Linked DNA regions of Homo sapiens. The protein of the gene in region 3 interacts with the protein of the main gene of each other region in a pairwise test. Each region holds a gene or a part of one and is shown on either strand. Other genes may lie near its edges.

Region 1 (3,653 bases), on a different chromosome or scaffold from region 3:
GTGATAGGAAAATATAGTCTAATATTAGATTTCACTTCATTGAAAAAGAATCAAAGAACAAAAAAACCTGGAAATTCTGAAGACAAAAGTACTTTTCTTTAGCCCATCCTTTTAAACCTTATCAATCAACTTGATGGAAGACAGAAAAAATTCATATGATGTAAGTTAATATAAATAGCGCACAAAATGTTGGCAACAGTTGTATGAACAAACTCAAATTTATAAGGCCAAAACCTACCAAATTTGGATAAGGAACTTCTCTGTCTCTCACCTGCCCCATCTATTAACAAAATTGATCATACATACTATCTATGAGGCCATCTCTGACAAAAGGATGGTGTCTTAAGTCTAGGCAGGGAGCAGTGGCTCACGCCTCTAATTCCAACACTTTCGGAAGCTGAGGCAAAAGGACTGCTTGAAGCCAGGAGTTCAAGACCAGCCTGGGCAAGAAAGGAAGACCCATCTCTACCAAAAAACAAACAAAAACAGAAAAAAATGAAGTCTAAAGAGAGTAAATGTAAGACGAATCATTTCTTTTTTCTTAAAATAAGAACTATCCTACCTTCCAAGTTTCACACATTGTTTCTAATAGGCCATCCCAGATCTCAGCACTTTCTGTGATTCTCCACACTTCTAAAGTAGACCCTGCAGTTAGTCACTTCAGTCTTCTTCACTGAATCTCTCACCTTAAAATATTCCATCATTCCCCAACCTCCACTGTAGGACTTTATTACTACTACTACTGACAAACGATTTTCTTAATGGGTCAAAAATAAACCCCAAATTGATGGATTCATAGGTCCCCTGTTTGTATTTGCACAACTGAAAAAGAAACACAATTGTTTTTCAACATAGCTGTTAACAAAATCTTGACGGCTGGAAATTTACTGGAATCCATGGAATGAGATTTGCAACAATAAAATAACCATTCAATATTCACTCCTGTTCTACCCAGACACAGCACATCAATTTATGTGCATCCACAAAAAAAAAAAAAAAAAAAAAAAAAAAAAGCTGGTAACTGTCTTATCTAAAATAATAGCTAAATGGTTTGGTTTTTGATAGAAAAATTAAAGTACTAATGCTTCAATTTCTGTTTAGGTGTTTCCATTGTATGTCTTCAAAGTGTAAGTTACTCAAGCAAGCCTTCACAACTGGTTTTACTTCTCTCTTGCTCTCTCCCTCCCCCTTTCCCTTCTGACTTCATTATCTTTCTCCCTCTACCACCCTTCTTCCAAAGCCCAAAGTAATAGATGGTAAGAGAAGGGGTTTTTTGGTTTCCCAATTTCAACCCCTAAAGCAATCCACCTACTATTACTAGTAAAATGAATAATGTTCTTAACTTCTGCTTTGAAAATCACAATCACTATCTCTAACTCAAAATAATTTTTATTATCTTTTCTGACACTATTGTTTTATGCTCATAACTAAAATAATGGCTTCAATATTTTAGCCATTGTCATGAATGATTTAATCCATTTCAGGAGGATTTAAAACCACCATGTAAATCTCTAATAGCCAAAAACTATAAAGTCTCATTAATTACAAAATCCTGGAGCTCTTAGCTACAAATTATGAGCTGAAAAGATATGGATTTTATTACTGTATAACATTAAATCCTAAGTAAAACTGCCACATAAGCTCATTCCCTGCTTCACCTCGCCAAGAAGTGCAATACTGGATTCATTTCCATAAAACACAATGAAATTGCTATTCTGCAAAAAAAAAAGTATATAACTCTGTAAGATTTTATATCAATGATATAAACTTTACAATATTTTGCTTGACCTTAAGGATGTTTTGTAAATTCTCCAAATTCCCTTTGAACTGTAAAAACCAAAAGGTAGGTAAGATTCCAACAAGACTGGACATGGGACAGAGTTAAGAGGATTAAGCCACAGTTATTACATGGTAAATTTCTATTTATTACTTTTGATATGCTTGTCTTATGGGGTATGAGTCTATATTTTTGGTATGTGTATCTACTTTGAACTCTAGATCTTTTTCTTCTATAACTCAGAAAATCAGCTCTTTATTTTCTATCACGGTAGTTATTTTTTCTCCCAGGTTGACTGCTCTGCATGTGCCCATGTGTAGTTAATTTTGTTTCTGACCACTTGTCCATTTATCAGAGTAATCTGAATGGTATTTACTTCATTTTTTGTTTCAGCAATTCCACTGAAGAAATTATGGGGCAACACAAGATCTCTTGATGATGCCTATATAAAATCATGAATTACCACAGATTTTACTCCAAACTAGTACTGATGCAATGCTATAGCCTACCGTAAACCTTCTAAGAAATTCAAGGCCTAGGGATGCTACCCTTTCAGACATGACATGTCAAACTGTATTTGCTTTCTCTAGGACGGGGAAGAGGGAGACAGAGTAGATGCCAAGAGGTTTCCATTATGGCTTCTTTCTGGCCTTTGAGAGTTTCCCTAGAAAGGGTCACCATAAGCCACTATCATTCTAACATCTAAAGCTTGCTCTTTCGACCAGAATTGATAGCAAATGGAAAGTAACAATTAGAATTTATAAGACTGGAAGAGAATAGGAGAGGGAAAAGAAAGCTATTAGAAGAGGAAGGGATCCTTTGGAAAGGTAGGAAAGAAGATGACCTTCACCCATCTGACTGTTTGCTCTAGCGCCACCTACAGCCACACCACCTGACCCTCAAAAATCACCGACCCCTGGCCAGACAACATTTTTTCCAGCTAACTGCAGGTGCCTGGCTTATTTGATTAAACCACCACATTATAAGGTCAAGGTCACATGCTTGATCCCTACGTTTGTCCTACGTTTGTCAATGGGCACAAGTTGCATGGTCAAAAACTTGCCTTTTAACTCCAACCTCTCATAAATACCATCACTTACGTTAAAGACATTCACAAGAGAGGATATGAACCAACAATGCAAATCCATCAGCATTACTAAAAGAAAAAAAAACAGGAAAACCTGACTTGTGAGTCAGCCCACAGAACAAATTCCATTTAAGAACTCCCTGATCATCCTGGGCTTCAAGGTTAGATACATAAGAGTAAGAAATCAGGCTTCCCTACTTACTCGTTTTATGTGTGACCTTGGACAAGTTAATTTTTCAGAGCTTTAACAATAAAACACATTAAGGGTCCCAAATAGAGCTTGACATATAAGGGATACTCAGGTTATGCTAGCCCCAGCCCCATCTGGAGATAGAATCGGGCAGTCAAGAGCACAGGGATGAAGCCAGGTCCACCTGTATCCCAATCTTGATTTTGCAGCTCACGTGAAACACTGGGCAAGTGATGGCCTTATCGTTCTCATAAAGCTGAGACAAAAAAATTAAAGCATTTAGACAGCACACAGCAATTGTCAACTAACGGCAATTATGTTTTAAATGTTAAGAAGAATATAGTATTATCACTATCTGTTAATGTTTTCCAAAGTACAGTCATGGAACTATTGATATCAGAATGACCTGGGTGGGATGTCTACTGAGGGGGAAGAAAAGGATATCATGTCCCATCTCAACCTATTTAAAAAAGCTCTCCAAAAATGGTACAGGGTAATGGTCATTTCTGAATCAAACTTCCTTGAGATATCTATGAAAATTTCAGAATTACTGACCCAGCAGGTCTTGTGCTGTGTCATAGTAAATTAAGACTTGTTTT
Region 2 (3,653 bases), on a different chromosome or scaffold from region 3:
GGGAAGAGCTGGAGCGCAGTGCTGCTGTGTGACCCCAAATCTGCTCCTCTCCATCACCTTGGTTTTAGAAATTTCCCGTTGCTGTGGTTGTAAGGATACATGATTCTGGCACACGGCCTCTTAGCACAGTTTTGATGGACAGTAGCAGCTTCTGGCTAGTCTCCCTGTTTCAGTTCTCTGTCCTCTCCAATCTAGTCTCTTTGTAATAGCCAGTGAGCTGCGGACAAGATCTGATCATTTTATTTCTTTGTGTAAAATTCTTCAGTTGTTTATTGCAGAATTTCAGGTAAATCCCCACTCCTTAGGCAGCCCACAAGGCCCTTTGTGATGTTATTTCTGCCTTCTTTCTTTCTGGCCTTGGCATTGCTGGGTGTCCCCACCCTTTGTTACCTGTGGTCTCGCTATGCCACCTGGATTAAACTACTTACTGTTCCTTGAGGGAGCCACGTTCTTTCCTGCCTTGAAACTTTCTACATTATGTACCCTCTGTCTGAATGGAGTTTCTCCTCCTCGCCCCTGTCTGCCCTCCTGCCTAGTTATCTGCCACAAGTCCAAGAGTTAGCATGGATGTCATATCTTCCAGTCCCAGTCGGATGACCCTGTTAAGGCATTGCCCTCAGCCTGCTATGTCTCTTTCCTCAGCTGTGTGAAATTCATCATTCTATCTCCAGCGCAGAACACAGGTGTGGGATGTGGTGAAGGCTTGAATGGGCGGCTAGCTGCTGGATAGTGTGGTGATCAAGAACACGGACTTTAGAGCCAGTGGGTCTGGGATCAAATCTTGGCTTTGCTAATTTCTTGCCGTGTGACCTTGGGCAAGTTACTTAATCTTTTGGTATCATTGTGGTCTCATTGATAAAATGGGGACGGTAATAGTACCTAGCCCTTGAGGTTACCGTGAGAAATTGAGAATTAGATTACACAAAGCACTTAGAAAAGTGCCTGGCTGGAAATAAGCTTAGTACACATGTGAGTTCCTATTGTTACATCTGTGCTGCTCGCATAACTTGCACTGATTTTGCACAGAAACAGTTATCCCTGCCATTACTTATTTTATTTATTTTTAGGGAAAATCCCTCTAGGTACGTAATTACCTCCAATCTCTAGGGATAAGAATGTTGTGAAAAGTAAAAACAACTTGCTTCCTCAAATACTGCTTGGGAGGAGTTTGTGTGGGCAGAAGCATGTGGCCTAGCACCAGCAGCGGCCCAGCACGAGCAGCTTACCCACAATGCTTTATTCTGATGATTGATCTGGTGCTCAGTTGCTAACTTTTTTTTTTCTTAAGGAAACAGATAGATCTCCAAATGATGAGATTGGTTAACTTTTTTATTTTTTTTTTAATTGAGACAGGTTCTTGCTCTGTCACCCAGACAGGAGTGCAGTGGTGCTATCTCAGCTCACTGCAACCTCCACAGACTGGGTTCAAGTGATTCTTGTGTCTCAGCCTCCTGAGTCGCTGAGACTACAGGCATGCGCCACCACGTCTGGCTAATTGTTTTGTGTTTTTGGTAGAATGGGGTTTCGCCATGTTGGCCAGCCTGGTCTCAAACTCCTGACCTCAGGTGATCCACCCACCGTGGCCTCCCAAAGTGCTGGGATTACAGGCTTGAGCCACCACACCTGGCTGAGATTTGTTAACTTCTGAGGGGTCACTTATCATGAGCCTCACAGTATTGATATTGTGTCTCAGTTTCTTCTTATCCTACCAATTATGCTCTTTGAAAACAAAATGAAACAAAAACAAAAAAGACAGACATCAAAGCAAAAAACAAAACTAAACAAACAAACAAAAAAACACCCTTTAGACTCATATTTTCTGAGTTTGAAATACTTGATGTAAAATCTGGAAATTAGTTCAGAATAGGATTTCTTTGCCAGAATTAGCCTTTTCTAGGCTCCTTTTTTGGGCTCAGTTTTGTCTGGGTTCTATTCTACAGTGGACACCTGAGCTGGGTTTTGTGAACATGCCTAGATGCGTCTTCATGGTGGGTTTTGTATGGCATAGCTGGAGTGTGGAATTCACAGCTGGGTTTAAAGGAAAGTACTGCAATATTCTCTCAAACATTCTCCTAGCCTTCATATGACAGCTGAGCAAACACATTTTAAAATCAGTTAGCCCATATTTTATTTGGGAACTCCTAGCTTTCACATTTCTTCCAATTTTTTTTTTGAGACAGGGTCTCACTATGTTGCCCAGGCTGATCTCCAGCTCCTAGGCTCAAGCAGTCTCCCTGTGTCAGCCTGCTGAGTAGCTGGGACCACAGGCACACACCATTACACCCAGCTAGTTTTTTCAAAAAAATTTTTGTAGAGACAGAGGTCTCACTTTTTTGCTCCAGAGGGTCTCGAACTCCTGGGCTCAAGTGACCCTCCCACTCTGGCGTTTCAAAGTGCTGGGATTATAGGCACAAGCCACCATGCCTGGCCTCTCTTCCTATTTTGTTAAAAATAAATATATTGGTTACAAATATACCAGAAAGTCATGGCTAACTATGTAGTAACATGTAATAATAATTGTCCCACATTTGCTTCTAATTAGCCATCTAATATATTCTCCATCTTTATGAGAATTGTCATGTTATTAATTTGTCAGTTTGTTTTATTTTACAAGCATGCAAGGATGCATTCTTGTACAGAAGCCAGGAACATATAGAACCAGCCAAGAAAGGTCTTAAATTATTTTGTGGTAAATTAATTGCTGATTATGCTAATTTTTAGTTTTGTTTTCTCAAAGAAGTGTTAATTATTTGTCATCAAATTATAGGGTAACTCTGCAATATATTTAGTAAGAAAGGTTCTTTTTCTTTCCTCATAATAACAAAGGGTAACAACATAATCACATAATCACACAACAACATAATAACAACAGGCAAAACACTAGCAGCAGAGAGTTAAGTAAGAACTTCATTTAAGTAAGGAGTTCAGCGGTAGTGGAGATTTAGTCGCCAAGGAAGTCTTGCTTACGGCTTTGGTTCCCCTAATCTGGCGTGTAAGCTTTGAGTCAGGGTCTTTGGGTGGGACAGTCTGAGCTACGGCTTTCCTGGCAAATTTGACATGACTTAAAAAACTTCAGTGTTGACCAGTGATTAGTCCTGGGCCACCCAGGATTTAGACACCACCTGTTTACTTGTAAACATGCAGTTATTGCTGAGCTAAAAAAACTTGCATTTGTATTCACATTTGGGTTCTCCAAAGAGGTGAAACTGACCCGATGAAACACAGTAAAACTCAAGAAGGACATGGCCTTTGAATAAGCACTGTCACCCAGAAATGAGCCCCCGCCCCTCCAAAAAAAAAAAAAAAAAAGAGCCTTCCAAGCATTGCCATACCACAGGGCTGGGCAAGAATGAGCCAGGACCAGCGTCTGATGGACTCCTGGTAGAACGGTAAGCTGTGGCTCTCTGTGGACATGTCACTGGGAGAGAGCATGTTGGGACTTGTTCTATGGGGCTTGGTCTCCAGGGAGCTTGAAAGGGAGATGTTATTTTCACAACTATGTGTTCTGAAGGAAAGTGAGCAAAGATGCATTTCTGAGACTTTAATTCTCCCCTAAAAACAAATTTTTTGTAATTTTTTTTTATTGTCTTAGAAAACCTGCCTACAAATTACACATATGAAATCAGTACCGGGTTACTTGGGGGTGGAAACAG
Region 3 (3,653 bases):
ATCTGTGCCTGTAGTCCCAGCTACTCAGCAGGCTGAGGCAGGAGGATCACTTGAGGCCAGGAGTTAGAGACTGCAGTGAGCTATGATTGTGCCACTACACTCCAGCCTGGGGAACACAGGAAGACCTCATGTCTTAAGAAACAAACAAAAAAAAGGGCCTGGCACAGTGGCTCACGCCTGTAATCCCACCACTTTGGAAGGCCGAGGTGGGAGGACTACCTGAGCCCAGGAGTTCAAAGACCAGCCTGGGCAACATGGCGAGACTGCATCTCTATTTAAAAAAAACATCTACAAAATGGCTGGGTGCAGTGGCTCATGCCTGTAATCCCAGTACTTTGGGAGACCGAGGTGAGCGGATCACGAGGTGAGAAGACTGAGACCATCCTGGCTAACACGGTGAAACCCTGTCTCTACTAAAAATGCAAAAAAAAAAATTAGCCAGGCGTGGTGGCGGGCGCCTGTAGTCCCAGCTACTTGGGAGGCTGAGGCAGGAGAATGGCGTGAACCCGGGAGGCAGAGCTTGCAGTGAGACGAGATTGCGCCACTGCACTCCAGCCTGGGCAACAGAGTGAGACTCCATCTCAAAAAAAAAAAAAAATCTAAAAAATATATAAAAAATAAATTAAGAAAAAAGAAAAAGTTAGGCACTTGACCTCCTCAGTGCCCATTTGAGTCTCTTCCAAGTGTACTTTCCTTTCTTTCCTGCTCTAAACCTTCTAGTAAAATTCCACTGAAAAAAAAAAAAAAAAAAAAAAGCCGGGTACGGTGGCTCATGCCTGTAATCCTAGCACTTTGGGAGGCTGAGGCGGGTGGATAACCTGAAGTCAGGAGTTTGAGACCAGCCTGACCAACATGGCGAAACCCTGTCTCTACTGAAAATACAAAAATTAGCTGGGCATGGTGTGGGTGCCTATAATTCCAACTATTAGGGAGGCTGAGGCAGGAGAATAGCTTGAATTGGGAGGAGGAGGTTGCAGTGAGCCAAGATTATGCCATTGCACTCCATCCTGGGTGATAGAGCGAGACTCTGTCTCAAAAAAAAAAAAGAGAGAGAGACAGACAGAGGAAAAAAAGAAAAACACCAAAAGACATACACTAAAATGCTAACCATGGCTATTTTAGGGTGGTGGCATTAGAATTATAGGCTATTTATTCTTTGTGTATTTCTGAAGTTTCTGTGATGAACACATATAACTTTTGAAATAAGGAAAAAAGAAAAAAAATTTTTTTTTTTTTTGAGACGGAATCTCGTTCTATCACCCAGGCTGGAGTGCAGTGGTGTAATCTCGGCTCACTGCAACCTCTGCCTCCCGGGTTCAGGTGATTCTTTTGCCTCAGCCTCCTGAGTAGCTGGGACTACAGGTGTGCACCACCATGCCAGGTTGATTTTTGTAATTTTAGTAGAGATGGGGTTTCAGCATATTGGCCAGGCTGGTCTCGAACTCTTGACCTTGGGTTATCGCCTGCCTTGGCCTCCCAAAGTGCTGGGATTACAGGCGTGAGCTACCGCGCACACCCAAGAAAATAATTTTTTTTTTTGCAACAGAGTCTCGCTCTGTCGCCCAGGCTGGAGTGCAGTGGCGCAATCTCTGCTCACTGCAAGCTCCACCTCCTGGGTTCACGCCATTCTCCTGCCTCAGCCTCCCGAGTAGCTGGGACTACAGGCGCCTGCCACCACGCCTGGCTAATGTTTTTGTATTTTTAGTAGAGACGGGGTTTCACCGTGTTAGCCAGGATGGTCTTGATCTGACCTCGTGATCCGCCCACCTCGGCCTCCCAAAGTGCTGGGATTACAGGCTTGAGCCACCATGCCCGGCCGAACCCAGAAATTTGAGGCTACAGTGAGCTATGATTATACCATTGCACTCTAGCCCAGGCAACAGAGCAAAACCCTTTCTCTAAAAAAAATGAATAAATATTTGTTAATGATGTCTCATATCTATCCATTCTTCTTCATTCTATCATTATCACCTAATTCGAGCCTTCACTACATGTCTTGATTTATTGCAAAAATCTTAGAATTGGTCATCCACCCAGTCTAACCCCCTTTTCTACCCATCCTGTCCCCTTACTGCCAAGTTAATCCTCTATAGGACACACTATTTTTATTATGTTACTTTTACTCCTTTATTAAATATCTGCAAAGATTGTATATTGCCTAAAAGTTCCAATGGAAATTGACTAGTACAGGTCCACTATGTTCTGCCCTACCTATACAATTTTAAATTCTGTCTTCTACAACAGACTCCATATTCAACATAGGTTGATATCCTGACTGCCCAACCCGCTCTCATTAATCTTTGCAAGTCCCTCCACTCATTCCCTTGAAATACTGGGCGAACTCATCCATTCTACACAGCCTACAAAAAACAAGTCAAAGGGATTATACTTATTTCTTGTGGCTCTGGAGGGCAGAATCAGAATTATGGGTAGAAAGAATGGAGCAGATTTTAGAATCACTGCAGAAAATTAATAATGGCAGCAATTGGATGAACTAGAAGATGGAATGACTAGAAGCAAGAGTACTTTTATCATAGGAATAATGAATCAATTTATTATTTTATTTAACAACTACATGGTTAACATGTATATAAAGCACTTATCAAAATGAAAGGAAAAAAACACCTTTCATAGGCAAGGTATTGTGTTAGTGTGTACAGATGGATGGATGGATGTATATATGCATACACACAACCACATACAATACAGTAATTAATAAACATTGTACATGATAATTTGCTAAAGAATGTTCCCAGAGGAGTATACATTCAGGACAACTTGAATCTGTGTCTCCTGAATTGGGAGTCCTCAAATTTGGCCCAAATAAACTCTCTACTTATATTAAAACAAACAAAAAAAGTTAGAAATCCAAAAGAGGGAAAAGACCTTTTCGGCTAAGAGAAAAAAGCAGCATCTGAGATGGACATCTCTTAAAGTATTACAGATTGAAATAATAGGTAAGAAGTGGCTACAGAGAAGAAAGAGTAAGAGGATGATACCTGATTGTTTTCAGGGCTAAGACGACCTCCTGCCCCAGGAGTGCCTGGTATCTTTACCACTGCAGTACTATTGGCCATGGAGCCTTGTGGAGGGGTGCTGGCTGGTTCCGGTTTTATGGATGAGAAATTGGAGAGGTTGATTAGGGCTGAGGGGCCAAACTGGTTCATAATCTGCCGAGCTTTGGACTTCAGCTCATAGAGCTTATCGAGATCCTGTTTCTTTTTGGAGCTGTGAGGACCAAGGCCAATTAACTGGAGAAGAAAAGCACAAGAATTAGCTCTAGAAGAACCTGTAATAAAGGATGAATCTTGAGAGTAAAAAGAGGCCTGGTGCAATGGCTCACAACTGTAATCCCAGCACTTTGGGAGGCCCAGGTGGTAGCATCACTTGAGCCCAGTAGTTCAAGACCAGCTTGGGCAACATAGCGAGACCTAGTCTCTACCAAGAAAAAAAAAAAAAAAAAAAAGTAAGTAAAATGAGGTCTGTTAGACTTTGAGGGTTCTTCAGTATATATGGAATGGTGACCATTTAATATCCACAGGTTAAAAATTGAGGGAATGAAGAATGTTTATTACTCTCAGCTGATATTTAGAAACCATCTCATTTCCAAATATTAAGTGAAATAGTCCACAAAATTTAAACAAGGAAGCAAG

Evidence for each region.
Region 1: the proteins of TAF12 (region 3) and PRKAR2B interact in binary tests that used the Homo sapiens proteins (3 or more experiments, as listed by UniProt).
Region 2: the proteins of TAF12 (region 3) and CLIC6 interact in a two-hybrid assay, tested with the Homo sapiens proteins (one large-scale study listed by BioGRID and IntAct).

What each region holds. Positions count from the first base shown.
Region 1 is NC_000007.14:107,047,694-107,051,346, reverse strand, and holds part of PRKAR2B (cAMP-dependent protein kinase type II-beta regulatory subunit), read right to left. Parts: intron 1-3,653. UniProt on the Homo sapiens protein: Regulatory subunit of the cAMP-dependent protein kinases involved in cAMP signaling in cells. Type II regulatory chains mediate membrane association by binding to anchoring proteins, including the MAP2 kinase.
Region 2 is NC_000021.9:34,671,962-34,675,614, forward strand, and holds part of CLIC6 (chloride intracellular channel protein 6), read left to right. Parts: intron 1-3,653. UniProt on the Homo sapiens protein: In the soluble state, catalyzes glutaredoxin-like thiol disulfide exchange reactions with reduced glutathione as electron donor. Can insert into membranes and form voltage-dependent chloride-selective channels.
Region 3 is NC_000001.11:28,618,915-28,622,567, forward strand, and holds part of TAF12 (transcription initiation factor TFIID subunit 12), read right to left. Parts: intron 3,252-3,653; coding exon of another isoform or gene 3,168-3,251; coding exon 3,000-3,167; intron 1-2,999. UniProt on the Homo sapiens protein: The TFIID basal transcription factor complex plays a major role in the initiation of RNA polymerase II (Pol II)-dependent transcription.